Linked DNA regions of Homo sapiens. The protein of the gene in region 1 purifies or fractionates together with the protein of each later gene. This does not show direct contact. Each region holds a gene or a part of one and is shown in the gene's direction. Other genes may lie near its edges.

Region 1 (5,164 bases):
TTAGCCGGGCGTGGTGGCATGTGCCTGTATTCCCAGCTACTAGGGGGGCTGAGGCAGGAGAATCGCTTGAACCTGGGAAGTGGAGGTTGCAGTGAGCTGAGATCATGCCACTGCACTCCAGCCTGGGCAACAGAGTGAGACTCTGTCTGAAAAAAAAAAAAATGTGGGCTGGGCATGGTGGCTTACGCCTGTAATCCAACCTCAGGCCTGCGGTGCGAGTCTGTGGGGGCAGATGCAGGTGGGGGAAGGCTGGCCAGCTGAGACTGTGGTTTGGGGGTGTTCAGGTGGGGTGGATGCCAGAGATGTGGGAGCCAGAGGCGCTGTCCCCCAGGGCCCTGTGAGCAGTCCCTGCAGGCTGGCTGTCCCCACGCCTGCCTCTCTGCTGTGCTGTCTGCCCGCCTAGGGCAGGCTCCCTTCTAATGGGCGGATCCCGAGAGCTGGGGGCCCCACCAGCCCTTCCTCTCCAGTGGAGTGGCCCTACTGCCTCATGTCCACCTGTGCCAGCAGCAGGGATGGTAATGGCTCTACTATCTCCTGTCCTCACCTGTGCCAGCAGCAGGGATGGTAACGGCTTTACTGCCTCCCGTCCTCACCTGTGCCAGTGGCTGGGATGTCTTCACCTGTGCCAGCAGCAGGGATGTCCTCACCTGTGCCAGCGGCAGGGATGGTAACAGTGCTGGTGATGTCAGGCCGGGAGGTTCTCACCCGAGAGCCGCCTTGGCACACTGCCCGGCAGTCAGGGATGTTAGCAGGAGCCCCGGGAGTGATCCCAGCTCTTCCCGCAGCCCCACTCCAGCCAGGGCCTCCTCTGTGACTGAGTAAGCAGGGACACCCCAGTGGCTGCCTGCTCCACCCGACAGCCAGGGCCCACCACAGCTGCAGGAATGTGGTCAAGGGATGGGAAGTCGGGCCCACCAGGGGAGGGGCTGCGCTCCGGGGCTTACGTTTCGTGGCTTGTCTTCTGAGGTCTCTCTTTTCCTAGCCCTTGGCCGACTAGGGGGCGAGTGTTTACAGAAACCACTGGAGGTGGGTGTTCCGTGTCAGTGCCAGGCTGTGTGCTGTTCTGGGAGGGGGCCCCGTGTCCCCCACACTTGGCATGCTTGCTTTCTGTCACTGCATAGCAGACTCCGTGCATCTGTGGGCTTAATACAACACCCGCCAGCTCCCGGTTCTGTGGGTCGGGGCCTGAATGTGACATGGCTGGCTCCTCTCTGCGGGGTCTCACCGGGCTGGAACCCAGGTGTCAGCCAGGGCTGTGTTGTCATCTGGAGGCTCAACGGGGGTGGCATCTGCTTGCAACTCACGCAGGCGTTGGCGGAATTCAGCAGCTTGCGGCCGGGGGACCAAGGGTCCTGCTCAGTTCCTGGCCACATGGCCCTTCTGTCTGGAAGCCAGGCGCCGCCTGTCCCCGCTTCTGCTTCCAGGCTCTGGCTTCTGGAGATGCAGAGATCACATCAGTGGTTGCCTGGGTTGCTGTGTGTGTTGTAGGGTGGTGAGACAAGTTTTCTCTTAGGGGTGATGGAATGTTCTGGAATTTTATAGTGGTGATGGTTGCACAACTCCAAGTGTCCTAAGAGCCACTGAATAGGACACTTGATAGTTTTTGGTTTTTGAGGTGTCTTTTTTTTTTTTTTTTTTTTGAGACAGAGTCTCGCTCTGTCACCAGGCTGGAGTGCAGTGGCACGATCTCGGCTCACTGCAACCTCTGCCTCCCAGGTTCAAGCAATTCTCTTGCCTCAGCTTCCTGAGTAGCTGGGATTACAGGTGCGTGGCACCATGCCCAGCTAATTTTTGTATTTTTAGTAGAGATGGGGTTTCACCATGTTGGTCAGGCTGGTCTCGATCTCGTGGCCTCATGATCTGCCCGCCTCAGCCTCCCAAAGTGCTGGGATTACAGGCTTAAGCCACCACGCCTGGCTTTTTTGTTGTTTTTTGACAGTCTCGCGCTGTTACCAGGCTGGAGTGCAGTGGCGCGATCTCGGCTCAATGTAACCTGCGCCTCCCAGGTTCAACCTTCTGGGTTCTCCTGCAAGCCTCAGCCTCCCTAGTAGCTGGGACTACAGGTGCGTGCCACCAGGCCTGGCCAATTCTTTGTATTTTTAGTAGAGACGGGGTTTCACCGTGTTAGCCAGGATGGTCTTGATCTCCTGACCTTGTGATCCGCCTGCCTCGGCCTCCCAAAGTGCTAGGATTACAGGCGTGAGCCACCGTGCCCGGGTTTTCATTTTTTTTTTGAGATGGCATCTTGCTCTGTCAGCCAGGCTGGGGTACAGTGGCACGATTGTAGCTCACTGCAGCCTTGAATTTCCGGCCTCAAGTGCTCCTCCTGTTTCAGCTTCTCGAGTAGCTGAAACCACCGGTGTGTGCCACCACGCCCAGCTAATTTTTTGATATTTAGTAGAAATGGGGTGTTGTTATGTTGCCTAGGCTGGTCTTAAACTCCTGGGCTCAAGTGATCCCCCCACCTCGGCCTCCCATAGTGCTGGGATTACAGGCGTGAGCCGCTGGTACCTAGCCATGAATTGTGCTTTTGAAAATGACCTGTCTTGGCTGGGCGCAGTGACTCACACCTGTAATCCCACCACCAGGTTGAAGCGGGTGGATCACGTGAGGTTAGGAGTTCGAGACCAGCCTGAACGACGTGGTGAAATCCCATCTCTACTAAAAATACACAAAAATTAGTCGGGCGTGGTGGCGCATGCCTGTAATCCCAGTTACTCTGGAGGCTGAGGCATGAGAATAGCTTGAACCCGGGAGGCGGAGGTTGCAGTGAGCTGAGATCATGCCACTGTACTCCAGCCTGGGCGACAGCGAGACTCCGTCTCAGAAGTAAAAAAATAAAATAAAAAAAAAAGAAAATGATCTGTCTTCTGGTAGGTGAATTATATCTTCGTTTTTAAAAACCAATGGCTGTTTAAACTCTGTGCACACCAGGGGTTAGCAGGACATGAGGGAGTGTAGCTCTGATGCGGTGACCTGGGCCGGAGCCCTCGGACTAGCCTCAGCTTTGGTGGCAGCACGCCCTGCCTTGTGGAGCCACGGCCTCCCGGGACGGACTCCCCGGCTCTCCCCCAGCCGCCCGCAGCCGCCGGATGATCCTCTGCTCCCGTCTCTGTCTCCCACAGTCGGCCTCGCTGAGGATGGAGCCCGCCCCGGGCCTCGTGGAGCAGCCCAAGTGCTTGGAGGCCGGGAGCCCGGAGCCTGAGCCGGCGCCGTGGCAGGCCCTCCCTGTCCTGTCCGAGAAGCAGTCAGGGGACGTGGAGCTGGTGCTGGCCTACGCCGCGCCCGTCCTGGACAAGCGCCAGACCTCACGCCTCCTGAAGGAGGTGTCGGCCCTGCACCCGCTCCCCGCCCAGCCTCACCTCAAGCGGGTGCGGCCCAGCCGCGATGCCGGCAGCCCCCACGCCCTGGAGATGCTGCTTTGCCTGGCTGGGCCGGCCTCGGGCCCGCGCTCGCTGGCTGAGCTCCTGCCACGGCCGGCTGTGGACCCCCGCGGCCTGGGGCAACCCTTCCTGGTGCCCGTGCCCGCCCGGCCGCCTCTGACCAGGGGCCAGTTCGAGGAGGCCCGGGCCCACTGGCCCACGTCCTTCCACGAGGACAAGCAGGTGACCAGCGCCCTGGCTGGGCGGCTCTTCTCCACGCAGGAGCGCGCCGCCATGCAGAGCCACATGGAGCGGGCGGTGTGGGCGGCCCGGCGGGCAGCAGCGCGGGGCTTGCGGGCCGTGGGGGCCGTGGTAGTGGACCCGGCCTCGGACCGCGTGCTGGCCACCGGCCACGACTGCAGCTGCGCGGACAACCCCCTCCTGCACGCCGTCATGGTGTGCGTGGACCTCGTGGCGCGCGGCCAGGGCCGCGGCACCTACGACTTCAGACCCTTCCCCGCCTGCTCCTTCGCCCCGGCCGCTGCCCCCCAGGCCGTCCGCGCAGGCGCCGTGCGTAAACTGGACGCAGACGAGGACGGCCTCCCCTACCTGTGCACTGGCTACGACCTGTACGTGACCCGCGAGCCCTGCGCCATGTGCGCCATGGCCCTGGTGCACGCACGCATCCTGCGCGTCTTCTACGGTGCGCCCTCGCCCGACGGCGCCCTGGGCACCCGCTTCCGCATCCACGCACGGCCCGACCTCAACCACCGCTTCCAGGTGTTCCGCGGGGTGCTGGAGGAGCAGTGCCGCTGGCTGGACCCCGACACGTAGGCGCCGCCCTCCTGCCTCCGGACCCTTCCCGCTCCCGGCCGTGGGGCGCCCCTCCTGGACTTCCGGGCCTCGATTTCTTCCGCACAAGCCTGACCGTGGATTTCAGGGACACATACCGCCTCCAGCGGGGAGCACGGGTGCTGCCTTCCGTGCGGATCGAGCTTTCCTGGACTCGGTCATTGGGGCCACCCCGTGCCAGCGGTGCCCTTCTGCGGCCGCCCTTGCTGCGTTTGTGTCCCCTCTGTCTCGCGGGCCGGGAAACTGCTCTGATGGGAAAATAAACAGCCCAAAACCAAGTGGGTGTCTGTTAGGAGGTGTGTGCCTTTGTGGCCAGGGTCCCGAGTGGGGTGGGGTCTGTACAGGGCCTGGTGGCTCAGCCGGAGGGGACCTGCTGAGCCACGTGTGGTCAGAGACCTGGGCTGATTCTGGGGTAGAGCAAGGCCCCCAGCTGCTGCCTCCTTTCCCGCTTCTGGAGTCCTGATGGTTCCAGGCGTGCCTGGCCCAAGTGTGTGGACACTAGGCGTAGTCCACAGGGCACCGACCCTAAGGAAGGGCCCTGGGATTTCGTGTCCTTCACAAGTGGCAACAGGGGACCCCAAAGGGCTGATGCTAGTCGGTCACAGCACAGTGAGGACTAGAGCCGTTTTTGCAGAACTTGGAGCAGGACCTGTGGGTCCACCCGGCAAGTGTCCATTGCCTGACCATGTGGGTGCAGCTTTGCCTCCAGACACGCCTGCTGTGAGCCCCCAGCCCATAGGGGAGGGGATCCGGCAGGTGGGGGCTCTGCGTGGGGAGCTCATGCAGTGGACAGAACACCACTGCTGGCCAGGAGCCCGCCAGGCCTGCAGTGGGGGAGTCCGTGCCTGGGGGTGGGACTGAGGTGGGCTGGAGGGTCCCGGATGGGGCCAGAGCCACAGCGTGGAGTGAGGAGGTGGGAGCCGCAGAGGCGTGCCCAGTTGAGTGGTAGA
Region 2 (6,135 bases), on another chromosome or scaffold:
AAGCCCATAAGTGCTCCAGCCTGGGATAGTTTATGTTTTTGATCAGTTTCCACCTCCCCTTACCTCCTCATCTCAGTTGCCAGTTTAAAGAAAACCTCACTCAGTTGTGAATGCAAGAAAAAGGTTTGGCAGGATATATACCAAAATGTGAATAGCGATTATCTGTATGTGGAAGGGGAGTAGGATTAGAGAGGTAATTTAAACAGAACTCTACATTTTTACTCCCTAATTTTGGTACTATTTGACTTTTTGTGATTTTTGCATTCAAATATCACCAGCGTAATGAAAGACTTTTTTTTTAACCTAAGGAAACCAATCTGGACCTCGTTTTTATTTATGTATTTATTTTTTATTTTTGTTTTCATTTTATTTTTTTTTTCAGACAGGGTCTTGCTCTGTCACCCAGGCTGGATGGAGTTCAGTGGTACAATCAGGTCCCACTGCAGCCTTGACCTCCTGGGCTCTGGTGATCCTCCCACCTTAACCTCCTGAGTAGCTGGGACTACAGGTATGCGCCACCACGCCTGGCTAATTTTTTTTTTTTTTTTTGAGATGGAGTCTCACTCTGTCGTCCAGTCTAGAGTGCAGTGGCTCCATCTTGGCTCACTGCAACCTCTGCCTGCCGGGTTCAAGCGATTCTCCTGCCTCAGCCTCCCACGTAGCTGGGACTACAGGCATGTGCCACCACACCCAGCTAATTTTTTGTATTTTTAGTAGAGACGGGGTTTTACCTGCTGGCCAGGCTGGTCTCAAACTCCTAACCCTGTGATCCACCTGCCTCGGCCTCCCAAAGTGCTGGGATTACAGGCATGAGCCACCGTGCTTGGCCCGCCTGGCTAATTTTGGTATTTTTTTGTAGAGATGGGGTTTTGCCATGTTGTGTGGGCTAGTCTTGAACTCCTGGGCTTGGCGTCCAAAGGTCGTCCCCGTTCAGCCTCCCAAATAGCTGGGATTACAGGTGCATGCCACCAGGCCTGGCCATTTTTTTTTATTTTTGGTAGAGATGAGGTCTCATTATGTTGCCCAGGCTGGTCTTGAACTCCTGGGCTGAAGTGATCCTCCTGCCTGAGCCTCCCAAAGTGCTGGGATTACAGATGTGAGCCCCTTTGCTGGCCTGGACCTGGTTTTTATAGATGCCTTAAGTGGGTTGTTGCCTTGTGTGCACAGCCCCAGAAATGTCGTGCGCTCTTTTTGAGTGAGGGTTTGGGGAACAAGAAAGAATCCAAGGGCTCCCTCGGGTCTTTTGCACACATCCTTGGCTCGGGGGTCCCTGTGAGTCCAGCACGTCGCCGGACCATTCGCGGCAGTAAACACAACTTGGGATCTGCATCTCCCTAAGGGAACTTCGCAAGGTGCACCCACAGCTTTTACTGTTTCCAGTTTAATATTCAACCTGAATCTGGGGCCAGCCGAGTGGAGGCTGGTGCTGCTCTGCCCAGCTCCTGTTCTGTTTAGAAACATGTTTATTGCCTTAAGAAGGAGCCAGTTCTTTCACCCAAACAGGATGGGCCTGGAGTTCCTCCAGAGGCTAGTGGGCCCATAGCAGGGAAGGAGGGATGTAAGCTGTGGATAACCGACCGACACGTGTAAGATTGTGCAGTGTGACCCAGGCGTGGCTGTGCGCATGTGAGTGGACCTGTCGGCCTGACCTTCAGGACCAGGGAAAGGGGGAGCCCTCACTGCCTTCCCTCCCAGGACGAAGCAAACCAATCAATGGTCTTAAGGGTTTCTTTTCTTCTGAGGCCTAGTCCTGCTGTGGGCAAGGTTTTTCCAGTGGGATACATTAAAATCAACTTCGGTGGCTCACGCTTCTAATCTCAGCACTTTGGGAGGCTGAGGCGGGCGGATCACCTGAGGTCGGGAGTTCGAGACCAGCCTGACCAACATGGACAATCCCTGTCTCTACTAAAAATACAAAATTAGCCGGGCGTGGTGGCACATGCCTGTAATCCCAGCTACTTGGGAGGCTGAGGCAGGGGAATCGCTTGAACCCAGGGAGGCGGAGGTTGCAGTGAGCTGAGATTACGCCACTGCACTCCAGCCTGGACGACAGTGCGGCACTCTGTCTCAAAAAAATAAATAAATAAAAAATGGCTAAAATGGTAAATTTTTTGTTTGTTTGTTTGTTTGTTTGAGACAGAGTCTTGCTCTGTCGCCTGGGCTGGAGTGCAGTGGCACAATCTCGGCTCACTGCAATCTCCGCCTCCCAGGTTCACGTCATTCTCCTGCCTCAGCCTCCCGAGTAGCTGGTACTACAGGCTCCCGCAACCACGCCCGGCTAGTTTTTTTGTATTTTTAGTAGAGACAGGGTTTCACTGTGTTAGCCAGGATGGTCTCGATCTCCTGACCTCGTGATCCACCCGCCTCGGCCTCCCAAAGTGCTGGGATTACAGGCGTGAGCCACCGCGTCCGGCCTAACATGGTAAATTTTATGCTATGTGTATTTTACCACACACACAAAAACACGTGTCGAGGTGTTTTCCCAAGACAGTGTCTCGCAGACGTACGTTTTACACTATGATTTTTACTTTTCAAGAACTGTTTTAAAGCAGTATTTGCCTTATAATAGGTAGGTGAATGTTCTAGCTGCAAGAGAAACCGGAGTGGTCTGGTCACTCAACCAAAACCTGCTGAAGCAGACCCCTGGGGCACACTGGGAACTTCTACCATCCCAGGTGGAAAGGTTAGTCTGATGTGCGTAAGCAAACCTTGCACTTCTGTGCGCAGGACGGTATCCTTGGGCCAGGGCAGCCACCTGTTGTCCAGAATCCCACAGGGCACGTCTTACCCACTCCTTTTATGTTTGCCTGAGCCCAGGGGTTGCTGTTCTTGGAGAAACACCAACCACCCCCACTTGACTTCTGGCCCATTCGGATCCAGAAATGTGCAGTTTTAAAGCTGCAGCACCTTCCATTTAGGTCCCAGCTCTCCCTCTGGAAAATGCCTGCTCCTCACCAGAGATTCCTCCCTGGAGCACCTGCCTGAAGCATAGCTTTCAAGCTGGTGGTTTTAGAAAGTTAAGAGCCGGCTTCAGAATTCCGACAGGGTGGGATAGCATAGGCTGTGACTTTCTTAGCACACACAGCTGGTTAAAGAGAACTGGGAACGGGCTGGGCGTGGTGGCTCACGCCTGTAATCCCAACACTTTGGGAGGCCGAGGTGGGTGGATCACGAGATCAGGAGTTCGAGACCAGCCTGGCCAACATGGTGAAACCCCATCTCTACTAAAAATACAAAAACTGGCTGGGTGTGGTGGCGGGTGCCTGTAGTCCCAGCTACTCAGGAGGCTGAGGCAGGAGAATCACTTGAGCCCGGGAGGCGGAAGTTGCAGTGAGCCGAGATTACGCCACTGCACTCCAGCCCGTGCGACAGTGCAAGACTCTGTCTCAAAAAAAAAAAAAAAGGGAGAACTAGAACGAAGCATCTCTTTGCTCAAAGTGATCTTCTCAACTGGGGGTTCCTTTTCAGAAGGCCCCCAGGGTGCAGGGTGGTGTTTAGGAGCCTGGAGTGGACCATGCTCGAGTGGAAAGGTGTTTTCAGCAGGGTCAGCCTCTTTTTTTGGTAGAGATGGGGTCTCACCATGTTGCCCAGGCTGGTCTTGAACTCCTGGCCTCAACTAGTCCTCCCACCTTGGCCTCCTGAGTAGCTGAGATTATAGATATGAGCCACTGTGCCCAGCCAAGGGCCAAGCTCTTGAAGCCCTTCTGGGAACTCTATCTCTAGCCTCTCATTACTCAGAATCTGTGTGATGTATTCCAGTAACTTCATAAGTTCTGTGAAAAGAAGGTATACTCCAAAGTTTGTAACGGCTTCTCAAAAGTCACTTATCTTAAGTGGAAGCCCTTCTAATACTTACACAAAGATTAAGGCAAATAATGTGGCTGCGCAACGTGACTCTCACTCGTAATTCCAGCATGGTGGGAAGATCACTTGAGGCCTGCGGTTCAAGGCCAACCTGGGTGACAGAACAAGACCCCATCACACACACACACACACACACACACACACACAAAATAAATAATAATAATAATAATAAACAAAAAAACAGGCCAGGAGCACTGGCTCACACTTGTAATCCCAGCACTTTGGGAGGCTGTGGTGGGTGGATTGCTTGAGATCAGGAGTTTAAGACCAGTCTGGGTAACATGGCAAAATCTCGTCTCTACTAAAAAGAGAAAAAATTAGCTGGGCGTGGTGGCGCCTAACTGTAGTCTCAGCTATAGCTGAGGTGGGAGGATCACCTGAGCCCAGGAGGCAGAAGTTGCAGTGTGCCGAGATGGTGCCATTGCACTCTAGCCTGGATGTCAGCACAAGACCTTGTCTCAAACAAAACAAAACAAGGCCGGGCACAGTGGCTCATGCCTGTAATCCCAACATTTTGGGAGGCCAAGACAGGAGGATTGCTTGAGCCCAGGAGTTCAAGACCAGCCTGGAGAGCATAGCGAGACCCTGTCTCTACAAAAAAATAAAAAATTAGGCCAGGGCGGTGGCTCTCGTCTGTAATCCCACACTTTGGGAGGCCAAGGCAGGCACATCACAAGGTCAGGAGTTTGAGACCAGCCTGACCAACATGGTGAAACCCTGTCTCTAGTAAAAATACAAAAAATTAGCCAGGCATGGTGGTGCATGCCTTTAGTCCCAGCTACTCAGAAGGCTGAGTCTGGAGAATCGCTTGAACCAGGGGCGAGGAGGTTGCCGTGAGTGGAGATCGTGACACTGTACTCCAGCCTGGGCGACAGGGTGAGACTCCATCTCAAAAAAAAAAATTAACTGGGCATGGTGGTGGACACCTGTCGTCCCAGCTACTCAGGAGGCTGAGGCAGGAAGATGGTTCAAGCCATTCAAGGCTGCAGAGAGCAGGGTCACGCCACTGCACCGCACTCCAACCTGGGCAACAGAGCGAGACCCTGTCTCAAAAGAAAAGAAAACTACACCACATTTGAAAAAATACGTTCTTTAAAATGTGAACCTTGAAACACAGATGCTAAAAGTGTTTTTTTAATCCTGCAGGGTGTGAGATGGCAGACAGGTTTGCAGGAAACCCTCAGAAAGGGGGCTGGAGGATTTAGCCACTCTGTCCTCCCCTTCCGGCAGTCCAGGGCCTCCTCCCGAGCACAGCGGCGCTATGGACTCTCCAGGATACAACTGCTTCGTGGACAAAGACAAGATGGACGCTGCCATCCAGGACCTGGGGCCCAAGGAGCTGAGCTGCACTGAACTGCAGGAACTGAAGCAGCTGGCGCGCCAGGGCTACTGGGCCCAAAGCCACGCCCTGCGGGGAAAGGTGTACCAGCGCCTGATCCGGGACATTCCCTGCCGCACGGTCACGCCTGACGCCAGCGTGTACAGCGACATCGTGGGCAAGATCGTGGGCAAGCACAGCAGCAGCTGCCTGCCGCTGCCCGAGTTCGTGGACAACACGCAGGTGCCCAGCTACTGCCTGAATGCACGCGGCGAGGGGGCCGTGCGCAAGATCCTCCTGTGCCTGGCCAACCAGTTCCCCGACATCTCCTTCTGCCCCGCCCTGCCGGCCGTGGTGGCCCTGCTGCTGCACTACAGCATCGACGAGGCCGAGTGCTTCGAGAAGGCCTGCCGCATCCTGGCCTGCAATGACCCCGGCAGGAGGCTGATCGACCAGAGCTTCCTGGCCTTTGAGTCGTCCTGCATGACGTTTGGGGACCTGGTGAACAAGTACTGCCAGGCGGCCCACAAGCTGATGGTGGCCGTGTCGGAGGATGTCCTGCAGGTCTATGCGGACTGGCAGCGCTGGCTGTTTGGGGAGCTGCCCCTCTGCTACTTCGCCCGGGTCTTTGACGTCTTCCTGGTGGAGGGCTACAAGGTGCTGTACCGCGTGGCGCTGGCCATCCTCAAGTTCTTCCACAAGGTGAGGGCCGGGCAGCCGCTGGAGTCGGACAGCGTGAAGCAGGACATCCGCACGTTCGTCAGAGACATCGCGAAGACGGTGTCCCCTGAGAAGCTGCTGGAGAAAGCGTTCGCCATCCGCCTCTTCTCCCGCAAGGAGATCCAGCTCCTGCAGATGGCCAATGAGAAAGCCCTGAAGCAGAAGGGCATCACCGTGAAGCAGAAGAGGTAGGTCGCCGGCAGCCTGTGAGGGGTACACCCAGGGTCGGGGGC
Region 3 (6,648 bases), on another chromosome or scaffold:
GGCCTGGGCGGGGCGCGATGAGCAGGCAGGTGGCATTTGGAGCTGCGGGAATAAATGCAACCCCAGGGAGCAGGTGTGGACAGAAAACAGAAGAGCGGCCTTGGGCAGCCAGGAGTCCCGAAATGTGCGCGGAGGAGGGGCCTTGGAGCGGGAGAGGAGTGGTCCAGGAAGCCACGTGCAGGGGGTGCTGAGGAGCAGCAGGGAGGGAGGCCCCCTGTCTTACAGCTGGGGGCTGCACTTCTCCATAGGCCATTGCTGCCGGCAGGAGCAGGTTCAGGGTAGTGCAGAGGTGGAGAGCTGAACTGGAGTAGCTCACATAGCGAGAGGGAGGAGGGGTGTTCAAGGTAAGACGAGACCACGCTTTGGAGCCATTTTGCTCTACAGGGGAACAGAGAAATGGGATGCAGCTGGAGAGCGAAGCATGAAGAGGATGTTTTAAAGATGGGCCAGGAAAAAGCACGTTTGTCCAACTGACTAGAGAGGAAGAAGTGGGTGATTCAGGAGTGAGGTGGAAGGCAGAGGTGTCCTTAAGAGGTCTAGTCCGCCAGGGCAGGGGTGTGGCCATCCTTCTGCAGTAATGCAGGGAAGACACGTTGCCGTGAGGGGGCAGCCTGCAGATCTATTTTATTTATTTATTTATTTATTTATTTATTTATTTATTTATTTATTTATGAGATGGACTTTTGCTCTTGTTGCCCAGGCTGGAGTGCAATGGCAGTATCTTGGCTCACCGCAACCTCCGCCTCTCGGGATCAAGCGATTCTCCTGCCTCAGCCTCCCAAGTAGCTGGGATTACAGGCGTGCACCACCACGCCTGGCTAATTTTGTATTTTTAGTAGAGACAAGGTTTCTCCATGTTGGTCAGGCTGGTCTCGAACTCCCGACCTCAGGTGATCCACCTGCCTCGGTCTCCCAAAGTGCTGGGATTACAGGCATGAGCCACTGCACCCAGCCAGCCTGCAGATTTATTTTAATGAGAAAATCAAAGCAAAAGCAGGGGCATAAGTGGAGCATATGGATGGGACAGAGAACGTTGGAGGCTTTAGCAGAGAGAGGAAAGGGCAGGAAGGAGTCATCCACAGGAGGGGAGAGTACTGTCCTGTGACTGCTCCTCCAAGCCCCCTCTTGCCGGCGTGGACACAGCGGTCTGCACCTTGACCCTATTGCATGCCAGTGGAGCAGAGCCCCCCAGGCCAGAAGCCCTATAGCTGTTGGCCCTGGCTTGGACACCGGGCAGGGGGCACCGGGGCAGGAGCTGGCCGCGATCCTGTGGCCCCAAATGCCCCCTCGCTGATGGCCTCGTGTTCTGGGTGCAGAGCAAAGAGGACCAGGTGTCAAAGGCACCTCAGGCAGGCGCTGGGCTCAGTGGGCATCTTGTGCTCCGGGATTTTGAGGCCATTTGCAGCCAGCTCCTCCAGCCCCAGCTCCGAGCTGCAGACGCTGCCACGCACAACAGCACCGCCAGGAGTGTCCTGGGGGCTTTCTTCAGAGGAGGCTGTCAGCATCCTCAAGTTCCAGCCGCTTAGCCCCAGTCCTGCTTCAAGAGGCTTTTTTTTCACCAGAGGCTTCTCAATGGCCTGAAAGCTCAGCTGAGTCCCATGAAGTTTGCCAGGAACATAAGGCTGTCGGTGACATTCGTGGCGCCAAGATTTAAACACGCGGTTGCACGCATTGGCCACTGTCTGTGCCACATGCACTGACGCCACCTGAGATGCACACGCTGCACGCCGCACGCGCACGCCGCACGCGCACGCGGCAGCGGCTTGGCTGGCTTGTAATGGCTTGCACGCGCACGCCACACGCGCATAGCGGTTTGGCTGGCCTGTAACGGCTTGCACGCGCACGCCGCACGCGCGTAATGGCTTGGCTGGCCTGTAACGGCTTGCACGCGCATGCTGCACGCGGGTAACTGCTTGGCTGGCCTGTAGCGGCTTGGCTTGGCTTTGCGTTCTTTGCTTGGCTTGGTGTTGGTCGCTTGGCCTGGTGTTCCTCCTTGGATTGACGTTTCCTCCTTGGATTGGCGTTTCCTCTCTCGCGTTCCCTTGCTAGGCTTGACCTTTTCTCTGCTGGGTTTGGCATTCCCTTGGGTGGGCTGGGTGTTTTCTTGGGGGGGGGGGTTGGCCCTTCCTCGGGTGGGCGTGGGCTTTCCCCGGGTGGGTGTGGGTTTTCCCTGGGTGGGGTGGGTTGGGCTTACCTGCTGGGGTTGGCAGGTTTTGGCTGGGATTGACTTTTCTCTTCAAACAGATTGGAAACCCGGAGTTACCTGCTAGTTGGTGAAACTGGTTGGTAGACGTGATCTGCTCGCTACTACCGGCCTCCCCAGGCTGTTAAAAGCAGATGGTAGCTGAGGTTGATTCAATGCCGGCTGCCTCTTCTGTGAAGAAGCCATTTGTTCTCAGGAGCAAGATGGGCAAGTGGTGCCGCCACTGCTTCCCCTGCTGCAGGGGGAGCGGCAAGAGCAACGTGGGCACTTCTGGAGACCAGGACGACTCCACTATGAAGACACTCAGGAGCAAGATGGGCAAGTGGTGCTGCCACTGCTTCCCCTGCTGCAGGGGGAGTGGCAAGAGCAACGTGGGCACTTCTGGAGACCACGACGACTCCGCTATGAAGACGCTCAGGAGCAAGATGGGCAAGTGGTGCTGCCACTGCTTCCCCTGCTGCAGGGGGAGCGGCAAGAGCAACGTGGGTGCTTGGGGAGACTACGACGACAGCGCCTTCGTGGAGCCGAGATACCACGTCCGTCGAGAAGATCTGGACAAGCTCCACAGAGCTGCCTGGTGGGGTAAAGTCGCCAGAAAGGATCTGATCGTCATGCTCAGGGACACTGACGTGAACAAGCAGGACAAGCAAAAGAGGTAACCAGGCCTGGGCTGGGAGGAGGTGGGAGGTCGGGGGATGATGGGGACATACCCTCCTGGCGGGGGAGGAGGGGGACCTGGCTTTCTCACCTCCGCAGGCCTCACAGCACCCTGGTTGTGGAAACCTCAGAGAGGTCAGGGCACAGGCCCCTTTATGAACAGCAACACACACAAAAAAAACTTTAGCTGATTTCCAATCAAATTATAATTTCCCTCGTAGAACACTAATAGACTGTTTTAAAGTGATTTAACTTGCAAAATTAATTAAGTCAATGCAGCAGATTATTTTTAATCTACAGATTTTAAAACAATGTTCTATACATTATAGAAAAGTGTATATTGAGAACTAAGAATGAAGCCCCATAACACATCAACTTCAGGGCTAAATATTCTTCAAATAAAATCCAGTATGGATTTTATATCAATGTACCCTATGTAAATACGTTCTTTACTGAGGAACCTTAGAAGGAAACTGAAATGGGAAGATGGTTCCTGTGCTTGAATAGGAAGATTGAATTTTCTTAAGATGTGAGCTTTTTGGCTGGGCGCGGTGGCTCATGCCTGTAATCCCAGCACTTTGGGGAGGCGGGCGGATCACGAGGTCAGGAGATCGAGACCATCCTGGCTAACACGGTGAAACCCTGTCTCTACTAAAAATTATAAAAAAAATTAGCCGGGCACGGTGGCAGGTGCCTGTAGTCCCAGCTACTCAGGAGGCTGAGGCAGGAGAATGGCGTGAACTCGGGAGGCGGAGCTTGCAGTGAGCCAAGATAGTGCCACCGCACTCCAGCCTGGGAGACAGAGCGAGATTCCGTCTCAAAAAAAAAAAAAAAAAAAAAGATGTGAGCTTTTTCTATTTATCACTTTTACATAAGCCAAATAAAAATAGCAAAGTTTTAGCGTTTTTAAATTACACATGCTGTCTTTTATTATTGTGATAAATTAATTTTTTGTAACAGAATGGAAAAAGGCTTGCTTTTCCAGATATCAAAATGTGCATGTGTTATTTATTTCCACAAATTGTTTACTAACAGCTGAAAAGACATCAATGAATAGAACAGAATAGGAAATTTAGAAATACCCAAATATATGTAAGAATTTAGCACTTGATAATGGTGATGTTTTGTATTATTTAAAAAAGATGGATTGTTCATAATTCATTTTTGGAGAAAACTAGCTAGATTTTTATGTCACAAAAATAAGAGTATAGATTAAAAATTTTAAACATACAAAAGGAGAAACATACCAGAAAAAATATAAATGCCTATTTATATACGCAGATATATATATATATACATATATATACACATATATACATATATATACATATGTATATATACATATATATGTGTGTGTATATATATACATATATATGTGTGTGTGTGTGTGTGTGTATATATATATATATATATATATATATATATATATATATATATATCCTTTTTTTTTTGGTGGAGTCTCACTCTGTAGCCCAAGCTGGAGTGCAGTGGTGTGATCTCGGCTCACTGCAACCTCTGCCTCCTAGGTTCAAGCAATTCTCTGCTTCAGCCTACTGAGTAGCTGGGATTACAGGCGCCTGCCACCATGCCTGGCTAATTGTTTTGTATTTTTACTAGAGATGGGGTTTCACCATCTTGGCCAGGCAGGTCTTGAACTCCTGTCCTCGTGATCCACCCACCTTGGCCTCCCCAAGTGCTGGGGTTACAGGCGTGAGCCACCGTGCCTGGTGTATATATGCAGACATAATAAAATAAGCTCATTTTAAAATTGGGCAAAGTACTTTTTTTGCATATCTACCAGTGACCTATGCACATAGGAAAATACAGTGTTCCTGGTAGAAGAAGGAATTTAAGTTAGAAGAGGAATGAAATACTGCTTTCTATTTAAGTTAGAAGAGGAATGAAAGGCCGGGTGCAGTGGCTTACGCCTGTTATCCCAGCACTTTAGGAGGCTGAGGCGGTGGATCATGAAGTCAGGAGTTTGAGACCAGCCTGGCCAGTGTGGTGAAATCCCATCTCTACTAAAAATACAAAAAATTAGCTGGGCATGGTGGCACGCACCTGTAATCCCAGCTACTCAGGAGGCTGAAGCAAGAGAATTGCTTGAACCAGGGAGGTGGAGGTTGCAGTGAGCCGAGATCGCGCCACTACATTCCAGCCTGGGTGATAGAGTGAGACTCCATCTCAAAAAAAAAAGAAAAAAAAAAAAAAAGGAATGAAATACTGTTTTCCATCCACAAAGTTTGTGAGGATGAAGAACAGTGGTACTTATGTAGTTGTTTAAAGTTTAAGTTGCTGCAGCTTTTCAAACAGACACTTTAGTGGTAAGAACTACATTTTAAAAATGTGTATGCTTTTTACTTATCAATTCCATTATACTGAAATATCTTTACGAAATAGATGTGTTTTTCTTAGTATTGCTTAAAATAGCAGTGTATTTAGAAGAACCCATATAAAGATTTTATGAACAAATTTCAGTGCATCCATAGGATGGAATAATATGTAACTATTGAGGGTGTCAGTAGATACAGAGATATGTCGACGTGCAAAGATGTACTTTGCTATATCAAGTGAGAAAAAAATCAGTTTGTTACACATATACACGAACAGAATCTGCTCGTGTTAGCTGCAAATCTGTAGAAAATATAATCAAACTTGTTTCTGGGGATTTGTAAGTGAAGTTTTTCCCTTTCTCTTATCTGTGATTTCTGCAATGAACATCTGAAGTTGTAGTTAAGGTTCATTACTAATGCAATAATCCTTGGGAAGAGAAGGAATATGCTTCTTGCATAGATGCAAATAATTCCTCACATTCTATTATTTATTTTTATTTCTGTGGTTGGCTATTTTCTGTGAACTTTTACCCTCTTCAGAAGAAGAGGGGTCGTGTTTACCTGTTCCTGTAGATTTTATTATATATACATTTTATTCCATAATTATCTTTTCATTATATATAGATTAACATGTAAAAAGTATGAATTAATCATTTTAGTTGAGTTATATATTTATGAAAATTAAAATAGCAAATATAAATGATTATTGCTATTGCAAATGTATTGCGCTACTCTATAGGAGTTTTCTTTAAAAATATTGAACTCCCAAGCTGTGTTCATCCATTTTTCCTATCCATTTAGTCATCAGACATAAGCCAGACACCTATTATGTGGCAGGCATATTCTACTATCTCTCAGGATCCTTCCGTCTTTGAAAACTACATGTTTTCCTGCTGGGCTTGAGCAAGCTGAGAGATTTAAAATTGGGGCATTAGGACTTAATCTCAATTGAAGCTTTTCCTCCCTCCTTTCAAACAAAAGCATTTCTGGAGGTAGAAAATAGTAATAGATAACCTTTAACTGCCCTTTTGAAAATTTATGTCTTGGGGAAAAGACTGTTTTAGTTGTTTTAAGAACTAAAATGTGGTACATAAACAGCATGGAATAATATGCAGCCATAAAAGAAGGAACGAGAGCATGTCCTTTGCAGGGACATGGATGGTGTTGAAAGCCATTATCCTTAGCAAACTAACATAGGAAGAGAAAACCAAATACAGCACGTTCTCAATTACAGGTGGGAGCTAAATGATGAGAACACACAGATACCTAGAGGGAAGGAACACACACTGGGGCCTATCAGAGGGTGGAGGGTGGGAAGAGGGAAAGAAGCAGGAAATAGAATGAACAGGTACTGGGCTTAACACCTGGGTAATGAAATAATCTGTACAACCAACACCCTTGGTGCACATTTACCTATGTAACAAACCTGCACATCCAGCACATGTATCCCTGAAT
Region 4 (6,135 bases), on another chromosome or scaffold:
AAAAATTGCATACTACATCATTTTGTGTATAATTATATGTGGAACCAATAACATAACTAAAAATAACACACAAGATAGCTGACATTGTTTCTGAAAGTGTGATCCAGTGCAATCTGCACCAGAGTCACATTCTTATTAAAAATGCTAATTGCTGCAGATGAATCAGAATTTCTCTGTTGGAGCCTGGAAATAGGCATTTTAACACATATCTCAGGTGATTCTTAGGCATAGTCAAGTTTGAGAATCACTTATATTATACATCTGGTCCTGCATAGCACTTATCAGTATTGAAATTTTACATTTAATTGTTTGACTATTTTAATTAATATTACTGCCCCTCACTAAACTATAAGCACATACAAGTGCAAAAACCATTCTGGTTTTGCTCACAGTTTTATTTTTAGTACTCTTCCCTGGTATATAGAATAGTCAAAATTGGTTGGGTATGTTGAATGGATAAATGAATGAACAAACATTAAGATGGATGGATGGCTCTGGATTTGCTTCATTTTGGTAAAAATTCTTTAAATATAATGGTGGACTGCAAGCATTAGTCTTGAAAATAGGAAGTAAAAGTTCGCAAATAAAAAGAAACAAACAAACAGAAAAGAGAAATAAGTCAATCTTATATGCCAAAAATAGAGCTTCATTGTTGGGGATGGGGGTTGGGGAGGAGTAGAGATCAATGGGGATACGCTGAGGCTTACAAGTCCTTCTTGAAACTCATAATCACAACCTTAAATGAACATTGAATACTTCTAAGCAATCCTACTGTGTTTCTCTAGGAGGCTTATTTCCTATCAAGAGAGTTGTTGCAACCAGGGTATGTCATCTATTGGTGACATAAGCTATAAGGAAATGTTATGATAGAAATTCCTATACCATGAGCTTTAAGTATTCTGGAGGCTAATATTGAAAGGGGATATCGTAGAAGCCAAACCCTTTGTGATGGCTTTATGAGACATGCTGTCCTCCTGTACTTAGATTGTTACTAGTTACATGAATTATCAATTCTACTCCAGATTGGATTAAGAAAACAAAAGGTGCATATTCTAGTTGGCTGTTTGGTTGTTTTCCTCTGTGTTTCCAGATTAGTTGATTATGAACAATAGTTACAATACATTGATTTTGTTTCTACACCTAAAGTTTATGATGTTAACTTTTTAAAAAATAAAAAATGTATTTAGTACATGCTTTATATGATTGGAGGGATAATGAAACATAATTATTTAAAAATAACATTTAAGTTGTGCCTGTAACTTTGATGTCTTTGATGCAAATCATAAATGTGTGGATTTTGTTAGGGCCTATTGTAATGTTATTCCCCAACAGACTAAAACACTGTGTATTTATATATGTATATATATAAATATATATGTATATATATTTTTTCTTTCTGGGGGATTACTTTCTTTTAGATGATGGATTTAGAAGAGGTAATACCCCTGGATTGCTGTCGCCTTGTTAAATATGATGAGTTTCATGATTATCTAGAACGGTCATATGAAGGAGAAGAAGATACACCAATGGGGCTTCTACTAGGTGGCGTCAAGTCAACATATATGTTTGATCTGCTGTTGGAGACGAGAAAGCCTGATCAGGTTTTCCAATCTTATAAACCTGGAGGTGAGCAATTTTACACTATTTTTAGTTGTTCTGTACTTAGAATTTTCATGAGAAAGTTTTTTTTTTTATTGTAGAAATGAACATAATTTAAATTTTGTATATGGTCTTAAAATGTAGAATAATTTTGACAGGTTGAGAAGTACTCAGCAACAGCTTGGAATTAAGTTCTAGATTACTTGCAAAGAGTTGTGTACATAATTTTAAAAACAACAAAAAACAACAAAGCTTCTAGCTTACGGTCTTCAGTGGGTTTTTTCTTCTCCAGTGGGCGGTACTGAATCATTCTGGATGCTGTCAATCCCTAAAGTTATCAATTGCTCTCTTAGGAAGATCTCTCTTTCTCTTTCTTTCTCTTTATGGAGAAGACCTTGGTCCAAAAAAGTATATTCCCATAAAGTCTCAGAAGTAGAGGCTGTTTTTCAGGTCTTCTTTGGAAGGGTGGATTCATTATCCCATCACTGTCAGCATTTACAATTTTTCGTCATCCTCTCTATTTCTACAGGTCCCAGGGACTTCATCTTTTCTTTCTTCATTAAATCTATCACATTCACTCAGCACATTGAGTTTGTTATTTTTTTTTCTTTGAGACTGCTTAGGAAAACCAAAATATCATGCCCCTAGTTTTCCCAGAGACAGTTTCCCTATAGACAGTTACATGGTCTGTTTTTGTCCAGAGTTTTCTATAATTACCATATGTAAATTGTAACAAATAGAAGAAAAGCAGAATGTTTATATAATTTTACAAAATCCATACTGTTTTGTCTTGGCCCTAACTCCTTTGCATCAGTGGTTAGTGAGAATTAGGTTCTCTGTGTTTTTTCCCTAAAAGTTGAACTTACAAAACTTTATTCTGCCCTTTTACAATAATGTTCTTCTGTGGATCCTGTATATCTCCTTTTTAAATGAAGGCCTCTGTTTACAGAGTAGGTTAGATGTAGTATTCTTTCAAGGAGTCTACGGCTCTTAAGTGGGAAAATTTTATTTCTGGAAACCTTATGATGTCTACTTCGACTTCTAAGACTCTACCCTATCTATAAAGAGTCCCTTAAGGACATTTCCTTGCTTTTTTTTTTTTTTTGCTAGACAAGAAAAAGAATGATTAGGATATAACATGAGTCAGCAGTAATACCACTTATTTGAAAGAGAACTCTAAATGCAAGTGTGGATTGTAAGACTTATAAAGTAGTCTTTATTCATTAATAATCAAGATCTTAGCAGAATATTTTGTCAAATTTAGATTAACAACGTAGGGAAAAAACTGAGGATTGACATAAAACATGAGGTTAAAACAGATACAGAATAACTGTGTATTAAGTACAATGTTTGAAGATCATTTATTTTTCAAGTGATTAAGAGTTTAATTGTAAACATAACCTTCTGAAAACAGAAGAGAATGGGATTAAATTTCAATATAAAAGATTTAAGTGAGAAAACAAAGGCATAATCAGAACAGTTTTTGTGTGGAATTTTCCTTGGGATATAGGAAATATTATTTTGAGGATAAGTCTTTGATGATGAACAAGGTGGCTTAATAAGGGGTTTGTTCAAAAGCAAGCAGGAGTGCTGTGTCACCTTTAATATTTGTTTTGCAGTAACTGGTGATTTATATTTATTCAGTGTTGTTTTCATCTGTACTTGGAAGTTTGGATTTGTCACCTGTTAGAAACACATTAAGAATGCATTACTCATGTGAAATACATTAAAAAATAACCTCCAATTCTGTGTTTATGTCTTCAAATGTGACAGAAGTGATGGTGAAAGTTCATGTTGTTGATCTAAAGGCAGAATCTGTAGCTGCTCCTATAACTGTTCGTGCTTACTTAAATCAGACAGTTACAGAATTCAAACAACTGATTTCAAAGGTAAGTTTTAAAAGGGGTCTGTAAATAAATTTTTGAGAGCCTGCTATGTACAAGACACACTATGTGACAGTTATGAATAAGATACATGCTTTACCTCCAGGAGCTAATTAATATTTGTAGTTAGGAGACAACTGTAGTTAAAAGAAACAGATTGAGTAAAGTGTGGAGGTAAGAAAGTGTAAGGCAAGTACATATAACAACTTATATGTGTTGGCTGGATTATCATAAAATACAGGATTGGAAATGTAAGTACAGTTTATTTCATGAAGAGCTTTAAACAGTAAACACGAAAGTTTGGGCTCCTTTTTGGCGTAGGCAATAAGTCGAGTTTTTGTTTTCGTCATTTTTAAGTGCGGCAATGCTGCATTTAGTGTCTGGTGACACTAGACTAGCGTTCCACATGCCTTGAGGGGAGTCAGGAATGGAGAGGAGGAAGCTGTTGAAATAATTCAAGTGCAGTTGTATGACTGGAAATGAGAGAAGGCATGGATTCCAAGAGAGATAGAATCTGTAGGACTTGTAATTGTTAAATGTTGGGGTAAAGCAGATGCACCGATGACCTGAGCCAGGGGTTTCAAACTTGGGTAACCAGAAAAGTAGGGATACATTAATAGAAATAGAGGAGGAAGGTGAGGCTGTAGACTTGACAGGGAAGGTGATGAATTAAATACTGGTGCCATTATGTGAGCTAGTGATAAAGAACATAGGCTCATTCCGATTTTTTGAGCTGGAAAAATATAACAATGAAAACATTCAAATTTTGGGGGGCAAAAGGATTAGTCCACACCAGACAAATGATTATCATCCTTACAAGGGTCCTGTACTCTGCAGAACCCTGAGCATACAAACGGCAGATTTTGCAGGGTTCTTGAACCGTAGGTTAATATTCCCTGGTGTAGTGGAAATTGTTCCATAATTACAAGTTGAGTCCAGTTTTCAGTCATTCATCTTATGGTAGTCTTGTCTTTCATCTCATTATCTGGGGTTGTAAATACCTGTTTAGCAGAGTTGTAGTGAACATTAATGAAAAATAAATAAATGCTCTGAGGAAAAAAATTGTAAGGCATTATGTAAGAGTTGGTGGTTATTATGTTCTAAAAAAAAGTCTATATTTTGACTTCTGTATATGACTTCTAACAATTTTGCTAAAGTAATAACCAAGAAACAAATCATTTTGTGAAATTATATTTTATGATTAAATTGCTTGTAAATGCATACTATGTTGGTATAATATACTGTATATTACATTTTTAAAATATGAATGACAAATGTAAAAAAAATTAGTTTAATAAGCACTCACACATAATACAAAAGAAAGAGACACAGTAGTTTCTTCCCCAAGAAGTTAATAATCTTACTGAGAAAAATATGTCTATAGAGAATAAAGGCAGTCACAAAACATCATGTAAACAAATACAGTATTTTTAACCAGCCTGCTTAAGAATTAGGTATTTATAACTGATGACCTTAGTTGCATTGAAAAGAAATTGTGTTTTTTAAATGTAAAGTATTTTTATCTGCTGCTTTCATGTCAATTTATAAAATGACTCCAAAAATTAAAGATGTGGACTTTCAGAAAAACTTAAAATTTTCCCTACTAATCTTCTCATTTTACACAAAGGAAAATTGCTTATTGCTTTAATAAAAGTATTAAAAACTATTCACAGACTATAGAAAGGCCTGTCAAAAGCCAAGAAGTTCAACATTTTGATATCAGCAGTCAAAAAGTCAGTTACGCAGTTTCTTTGGAATCAGATCACTCATTTACTTGGCAAGTTTGAGAGCAATAGAGATTCTAGGAAAAAATCCTTACCTTTAAAATAGTTTCAGAGCATACATTTATAAATGGTACTTTGTTCTCCTGATTTGCAGTATAATTTATGGCTATAAGTAATTTTTCCCTTCAATTATTCAAAAATTTTAAAACCTCTACTAAAATTATGTTTCTCTCTGCTGCTTTTAAGAAGAACTCAGCAGTGTCTTGCTTTCCCATATTTTTAAGTCAAGCAGAATTATTTTTGAAAGAGTACTTTTTATTAAATTGCTTTCATTATAGGCCATCCATTTACCTGCTGAAACAATGAGAATAGTGCTGGAACGCTGCTACAATGATTTGCGTCTTCTCAGTGTCTCCAGTAAAACCCTGAAAGCTGAAGGATTTTTTAGAAGTAACAAGGTATGTCATTTACTTTTTCATTACTATTTTCTATGCTGGTAGTAGTAAATGAAATTAGGTTCAATATTATAAGCCTGGCCTCCACAGCTGTTCAACATCTGTCTGGAACTTAATTTAAAATTCTCAACCCAGTAATTACCTTCCTTTGTAGTCAGGTCAGGTCAGGCTCCCTTCTGTCCTGTGAATCAGTCCTACTGGTTCTCCTCTTCTTTGCCTTTGTTCATGTGCACTCCCACCTGGAGTGTTCTTCCTCCTCTCCCTGCATTTTTTTTTTTTCAGTCTCCAGATTAGTCCTACCTCTTTGGTGAAGACTTCATAACCATTTCTTCCCACAGTGATTATGTCCCCTGGATTGTGTTTATTCTTGAGCTTGTCCCATAAAGCAGTGCTTCATGGTGAGGGTCAGAGGCATACCTGGTATAGAGAAAATTATAATCTTGAGTTCACCCAACATTATTCCTTTTGCCTACT
Region 5 (6,135 bases), on another chromosome or scaffold:
AATTACTTTTATCTCATTTTACAGAGAAGGAAACTGGGGCATATGCAGTTAAGAGACCTGCCAAAGGTCACATAAGTACTAGATTTGGGCTTAGGTCTGCCTGACACCCAGGTTCGTGGTCTCAACCATGATGTCACTCTGCCTCAGCCTGAGGAGCATAAGAGTGGGTCATTCATGAGGTACGCTGAACACTGGCACACCTAAAGTTTGTAAATAATATTGCTAATTACGTACTTCAGCAACTCAAATTTGAAGACTCCCATAAAGTATATTGCTGTTGCCAGGAAAATTAGCAAAGATTTCCTTCCTCTAGCTCGTAAATACAAGCTGTCTGTATGGAATGTTCCCTTACTCTCCTGTAGGAAATTAGAGTGAAGTTTTTGAACCTGTGTTTCTTTCTGTCCTTTGGAGCTTTTGGGTCTCATACAAACGAAAGAACATATTTAGGGCGATTACCTTCTTGACAAACAAACAAGAGACTGGCACTATTATCAAAAGCCCCAAGGATATCTGGAGAGGATTCAGTGATTATGTTGTCAGCTGAGTCCAAATCCCAAAGCAGAATGTTCTGGACTGGAGAGCAGGGACCAAAGTAGACTTGGCAGTCCCCTCCCTGGAAAAGCAGTTCATATCCCAGAAGAGAGAAAGGTGGTTCATGTCTGATTCAGGCACCTGCTGAGACCTTTCTGTTACATGCAGCACACCAGGTGTTGTCTTCACTCGGAATGGTTTCCCAAGACCCAGATACTCAGGGTATCACGTAAGTGAGAGAACCTCTTGGGTACATTATTGTTTCTTAAAGCAATACCAACCTGTTTTCAAACTAAGTAGAACATATAACACTATAATATTTTTCTTTTAGTGTGCCCTTCTTACCCCATTCACTAATCCGCAACCCCAGACCTGTATGTCAGAGGGCTAGGGGAAGCGTCTTGGGTATAGTAGGCCATAGGCCACAAATGGCTTTGTTGTCAAAAAGACAGCATATTCTTCAAGATGCTGTGGAGCTTTTCTATAGCATCTTCCTGGTAACATTGAGAGTCTGTGTCAGGGAAAAGGTTTTAATTCTCTCCAAACCCTGAAACTCAGCTGTGAAGGCCCTCTATTACATTTGAGAGAAGTGTTTGAGCTAGCCATAAAAAATACATCCTGGGAAAGTTGGTAAGAAGGACCAGCATGTGGTTCCTGCCCTCAGACCCGCTCTCCTGACTGATGGCTTTGACTAGGCTACTTTGAGAGGCAAAGTAGTGACCGGCATCTGCTGCTGGCAAGGAGACACACTGTGTTGTGGCCTCCTGTTCCTCCAGCATGCTGGGTCCCCAGGGCCTCATCCGGTTTGTTGATGGGATATGGTTCCCCCCAAACAGCAGTCTTACTTTAACTTTTGTTCTCCTGAGGATGGAGATGATAGGTGGTGGCCAGTTACTTCTACATCTTGCAAGGGCATGAATGGAGAGGGATTTGAGGTTTCAGCTATTTGGGAAAGCATTAGATAGTTTGCATTTTTTTTTTATTTATAGTTACCAATAACCCCTTTTCAATTCCCTAGGCTTCTCATTCCATTAGTTTAATCATATTTCCCAGAATCATACGTTTCAAGCTCTTGACGGTTAAGCCTTTCTATCACGTCCCACTCTTAACCCCCAAACACCCGCATCAGTCTTCTTTGTCACAGATGTTTGAAGGATGCTTTCACGTTGGGCCTCTCTTTGTATGTGCAATTCTGCTGCCTGGCACAGTCTCCCCAGTTTCTCTGAGGCCCAGCAGGCTGCAGGTTAAGCTTTTCCTCCTCTGGGCCGGCCTGATCTTACCTCTTGCCTCGTCCTCCTCTGTGTTTTCATAGCATCCTCTGCACATCTTTGTTCAAGTTGCCTGTTTATAAGCTTCTCCCTTTTCATACACTGAGGTCCTCTCTGAGGGCAAGGAGAGAGCTGTGCTCTTATTTTTATTCCATTATAGTACCTGGCATGGAAAAAAAGCTGTGAGTGATGAGTAAATGAATGAGTGAATGTTCGCAGAAATCAAATCACTATGTTCGAAGAATACAATTCGGCATTAAATTGTCCCCCTGCCTTCAAGTAGCTGAGGCCAGGAGAAGCTGCAAAGCAAACTGGTTGCAAATTCAGGGTTATGGGGTCAGACCTCGCTGCCAAGTTCAAAGTCCAGCTCTGCTCTTTGCAGTTCTGTGACCTGGGCAAGTGACTTAATATGTCCGAGCCTTAGTTTTCTCGTATATAAAATGTGGATAATACTACCCACATTGCAGCGGTATTATGAGCCCTAAGAGAAAATACGTATTTTAGAAATGCTGGCATTTAGTTGGAGCTCGATAAATACTTCCCCCTCTTCTTCTCACCCAAATGTGTGAGAAGTTGAATAATTGTCTAGATAACAAATACAATTAGTTTTCAAAGGAAAGAAATATCACTGAAGGGAAAGAGAAAGTAGGATTTGCGATTTGAGCTGTAAAATAGATATGATTTACCCAAAATACGAGTAAAAGGAAAATAGCCCAATGATCTGAGAGTGGAAAGAAAAAGGTAGAAGTAAGACACTTTTCACCTAGTTCCACTGGCTGAATCTACTTGGTCCAGCTTTTTTTTTGTTTTATTGATGGTTGCTTTTTGTTTTGTTTATTTTATTTTTAGTCCTAGGAATGTGGGCAAGTAACTATTTTCACATGAAATGTTCCCATGTAAATTACTTCCTTGAGTGAGTAAATATGCTGCAATGCCCCATTCGTTTTAATTAAATGTACTTAAAAACTAATCTTATTTAAAGTCAGAGGGTAAAGCAGTCTGTTTAAGTTTATTGTTTGGCATTGTTTTAATCCAGGCTTTAAACAAATTTGAATCTTACTAAGAGTGGCTTACTTTCAAAGAAATCCCTGATTTCCCATCCTTTGATCCTAATGATTCTGGGGCATGACCCAGTGCTGATTATTATGGATGGACTCCTGTTAACTTGGCAAATCAGCCATGGACCTGTGACGGCCATGGGTACAAGACAAAGCTGCTAACAGAAAGGGAATATGGATTGTGTGGAGGCTGGGCACAGTGGCTCACGCCTGTAATCCCAGCACTTTGGGAGGCCGAGATGGGTGAATCACGAGGTCAGGAGGTCGAGACCAGCCTGGCCAACATAGTGAAACCCCGTCTCTACTAAAAAATACAAAAATTAGCCTGGCATGGTGGTGGGCGCCTGTAGTCCCAGCTACTCAGGAGGCTGAGGCTGGGAAATTGCTTGAACCTGGGAGGCAGAGGTTGCAGTGAGCCGAGATAGCACTACTGCACTCCAGCCTGGACAACAAAGTGAGACTTTGTCTCAAAAAAAAAAAGAAAAAAAAGAGGGGGGATATGGATTGTGTGTTACTCATTGGGGTGGACAGGTGGCCAGCACAGGCTTGATTTGTCTATGGACTACAAGACGAAGGCTACCAGTAGGAAGGTAATATAAGGTGAATACGTGGTCAGCAGATGGGTGATTCTGTCCCTGGGGTGGAAGATGAAGGCTGCCAACAGGAAGGAAGCATAGTCTGTGTGCTGTTTGTTAGGGCGTGTAGAGGTAGCCAGCAGGAAGATTCCTTTCTCAATCTCAGAAAGCAGCACACCCAGAATACACTAGAGAAACCCTTTGCAGAATCAGGATTTAAGTATGTCAGGATTTTAGATAGACTATGATATGATATGCACGAGGATTCTAGATATTTCTCAAAGGTAGAAATAAACCTTTGATATCAACACCTTTATTTATTTATTTATTTATTTATTTATTTATTTATTTATTTATTTATTTATTTTGACAGAGTCTTGCTCTGTCACCCAGGCTGGAGCACACTGGTGTGATCTTGGCTCACTGCAGCCTCTGCCTCCCGGGTTCCAGCGATTCTCTGTGCCTCCGCCTTCTGGGTGGCTAGGATTACAGGCATGCACCACCATGCCTGGCTAATATTTTTGTATTTTTAGTAGAGATGGGGTTTCACCATGTTGGCCAAAGCTGGTCTTGAACTCCTGACCTCAAATGACCTGCCCGCCTCGGCCTCCCAAAGCACTGGGGTTATAGGTGTGAGCCACCGTGCCCAGCCAACACCTTACTTTTGTAGGAAGTAAGAGACTGAGGTCCAGAGAAGTAAATGACTTTCCTAAGGTCTATGGTATAATCAGAGGGTAGTGTTAGATTAAGACCCTAGCTCTCCTCTCTCCCTGTTTGATATTACATGAGAAGACCAAAGGATTATTAATTTTTTTTTTTAAGTTCAGTTGGAGATTCAGCTCGGGTGAAACTTTCCTGTGGAGTCTCTCCAGACCTCTCCTCTTTTGGGCTCTGCTGTGTACCACACAAATGCCCATCCAAGCACCTCTATGCTTGGCTATTTGTATCTGTTTGTTTGCGTGTCTCCCTACCAGGTAGTAAGTGCCTTAGTGGCAGGACAGTTGTTTCCGTGGTTTCTTCAGACTATAACGCAGTGCTTGGTAAGTAAAGGTACTTCATACATTTTAAAATGGAGATGTAATGTAGTACACCATAACATTCACCACTTTAACATTTACGAGCCTGTGCATTTTAGTAGAACCACGAAGTTGTGCAACCATCCCACTATCTAATTCCAGAGCATTTTTATCAGCCCAGAAAGAAACCTTGTGCCCGTTAGAAAACATCCCTGATGACTCACATTCCTCAGCTGCTGGCAACGACTTATCTCCTTTAGGTGTTTGTGGGTTTTCCTATTCCAGACATTTCATCTGATTGGAATCATGTAACCTGTGATTTTTGTGTCTAGCTTCTTTTACTTAGTATAATGTTTTTAAGGCTCATCGAGGCGGTAGCATTTATCAATACCGTATTCCTTCTTATGGCTGAATAGTATCCCATTGTAGGGATATATCACATTTTCTTTATCTTTTCGTCAGCCGATGGTCATTTGTGTTGTTCCTGCTTTCTGGCTATTATGAATAATGCTGCTATGAACACTTGTTACATGTTTTTGTGTGAACGTGTTTTCAGTCCCCTTGGGTATATACCGAGGAGTGGAAATCCTGGGTCATACGATAATTCTCTGTTTAACTTTTTGAGAAACTGTCAAACCGTTTTCTACAGTGGCTATACCATTTTACATTCCCACCACTTAATACAATTTCAAATTAAATTAAAGCTATTCCCTCAAAGTGAAATAACCAGTTTTCCCATATGTACACAAATCCTATATGTACATTCTATTTACATCCTATATCTTAATCTTCAAAACTGCTTTTATCTTTACAACATAAAGGTCTGCAAACATTATATAAAGAAAGGTAGGGCCTTTACTTTGAGAAATCATTTAGCTGGCTTGTAAATTCACTTTCTGTAAGTGACTTACTGTGGCCCCCCAAGTTTTGTTTGTTTGCTGTTTAGAAGTCTTTCCTCATCCAAGTTCTGTGGCCATAGATAACAACCAAAATTAATCAGAGGACATCAGAGACATTATGACTCACAGAGCCCAGAAAAATCTAGCTCACAAAGGTTTGTCTGCAGCCCAAGTGGAGAGGGAGAATTCTCATGCCATAGAGTAGGATCTCCTGGGATAAAGATGAGCTGGGGAAGAAAAGTCAAATAGCTAGGGCCACAGCTAGCGCTCAGCCAGCTCCCTTTCTGTCCATCATGACCTGGATCATTTTGTAAGGTCATTTTTGACATCACTAGAATATTCTGGGGTGTTTAATATTTGCTGTCCTTGTGGGACAATTCCCAGTTCTGTTTCATATTGGTCTTTTCCCTGAAGTGCTATCATGTGATTCTAGTGTGTAGCTGGATATGTTCTGTTATCCTTTCCTTGGGCTCTTTTCCCTAAAGGGCACAGACTCTATCTTCACTTGGTAGCCAGTGGCATTATAGGGGCAGTGGCTACTTAATAACTGCCTAGGCTGGGCACGGTGGCTCACGCCTGTAATCTCAGTACTTTGGGAGGCCGAGGCAGGCGGATCACCTGAGGTCAGCAGTTCAAGACCAGTCTGGCCCAACATGGTGAAACCCTGTCCCTGCTAAAAATACAAAAAAATGAGCTGGGCATGGTGGTACACACCTGTAATCCCAACTACTTGGGAGGCTGAGGCACAATAATTGCTTGAACCCAGGAGGCAGGGGTTGCAGTGAGCC

The links.
Region 2: the proteins of ADAT3 (region 1) and TBC1D24 purify together in Homo sapiens (affinity purification with mass spectrometry; one large-scale study listed by BioGRID and IntAct). This does not show direct contact.
Region 3: the proteins of ADAT3 (region 1) and POTEI purify together in Homo sapiens (affinity purification with mass spectrometry; one large-scale study listed by BioGRID and IntAct). This does not show direct contact.
Region 4: the proteins of ADAT3 (region 1) and USP47 purify together in Homo sapiens (affinity purification with mass spectrometry; one large-scale study listed by BioGRID and IntAct). This does not show direct contact.
Region 5: the proteins of ADAT3 (region 1) and ABLIM1 purify together in Homo sapiens (affinity purification with mass spectrometry; one large-scale study listed by BioGRID and IntAct). This does not show direct contact.

What each region holds. Positions count from the first base shown.
Region 1 is NC_000019.10:1,908,956-1,914,119, forward strand, and holds the end of ADAT3 (probable inactive tRNA-specific adenosine deaminase-like protein 3), read left to right. Parts: intron 1-2,934; 5' UTR 2,935-3,092; coding exon 3,093-4,196; 3' UTR 4,197-4,492; downstream 4,493-5,164.
Region 2 is NC_000016.10:2,491,024-2,497,158, forward strand, and holds part of TBC1D24 (TBC1 domain family member 24), read left to right. Parts: intron 1-5,010; 5' UTR 5,011-5,125; coding exon 5,126-6,090; intron 6,091-6,135. UniProt on the Homo sapiens protein: May act as a GTPase-activating protein for Rab family protein(s). Involved in neuronal projections development, probably through a negative modulation of ARF6 function. Involved in the regulation of synaptic vesicle trafficking.
Region 3 is NC_000002.12:130,504,925-130,511,572, reverse strand, and holds the start of POTEI (POTE ankyrin domain family member I), read left to right. Parts: upstream 1-2,244; 5' UTR 2,245-2,337; coding exon 2,338-2,858; intron 2,859-6,648.
Region 4 is NC_000011.10:11,934,885-11,941,019, forward strand, and holds part of USP47 (ubiquitin carboxyl-terminal hydrolase 47), read left to right. Parts: intron 1-1,418; coding exon 1,419-1,626; intron 1,627-3,372; coding exon 3,373-3,488; intron 3,489-5,544; coding exon 5,545-5,664; intron 5,665-6,135. UniProt on the Homo sapiens protein: Ubiquitin-specific protease that specifically deubiquitinates monoubiquitinated DNA polymerase beta (POLB), stabilizing POLB thereby playing a role in base-excision repair (BER). Acts as a regulator of cell growth and genome integrity.
Region 5 is NC_000010.11:114,647,065-114,653,199, reverse strand, and holds part of ABLIM1 (actin-binding LIM protein 1), read left to right. Parts: intron 1-6,135. UniProt on the Homo sapiens protein: May act as scaffold protein. May play a role in the development of the retina. Has been suggested to play a role in axon guidance.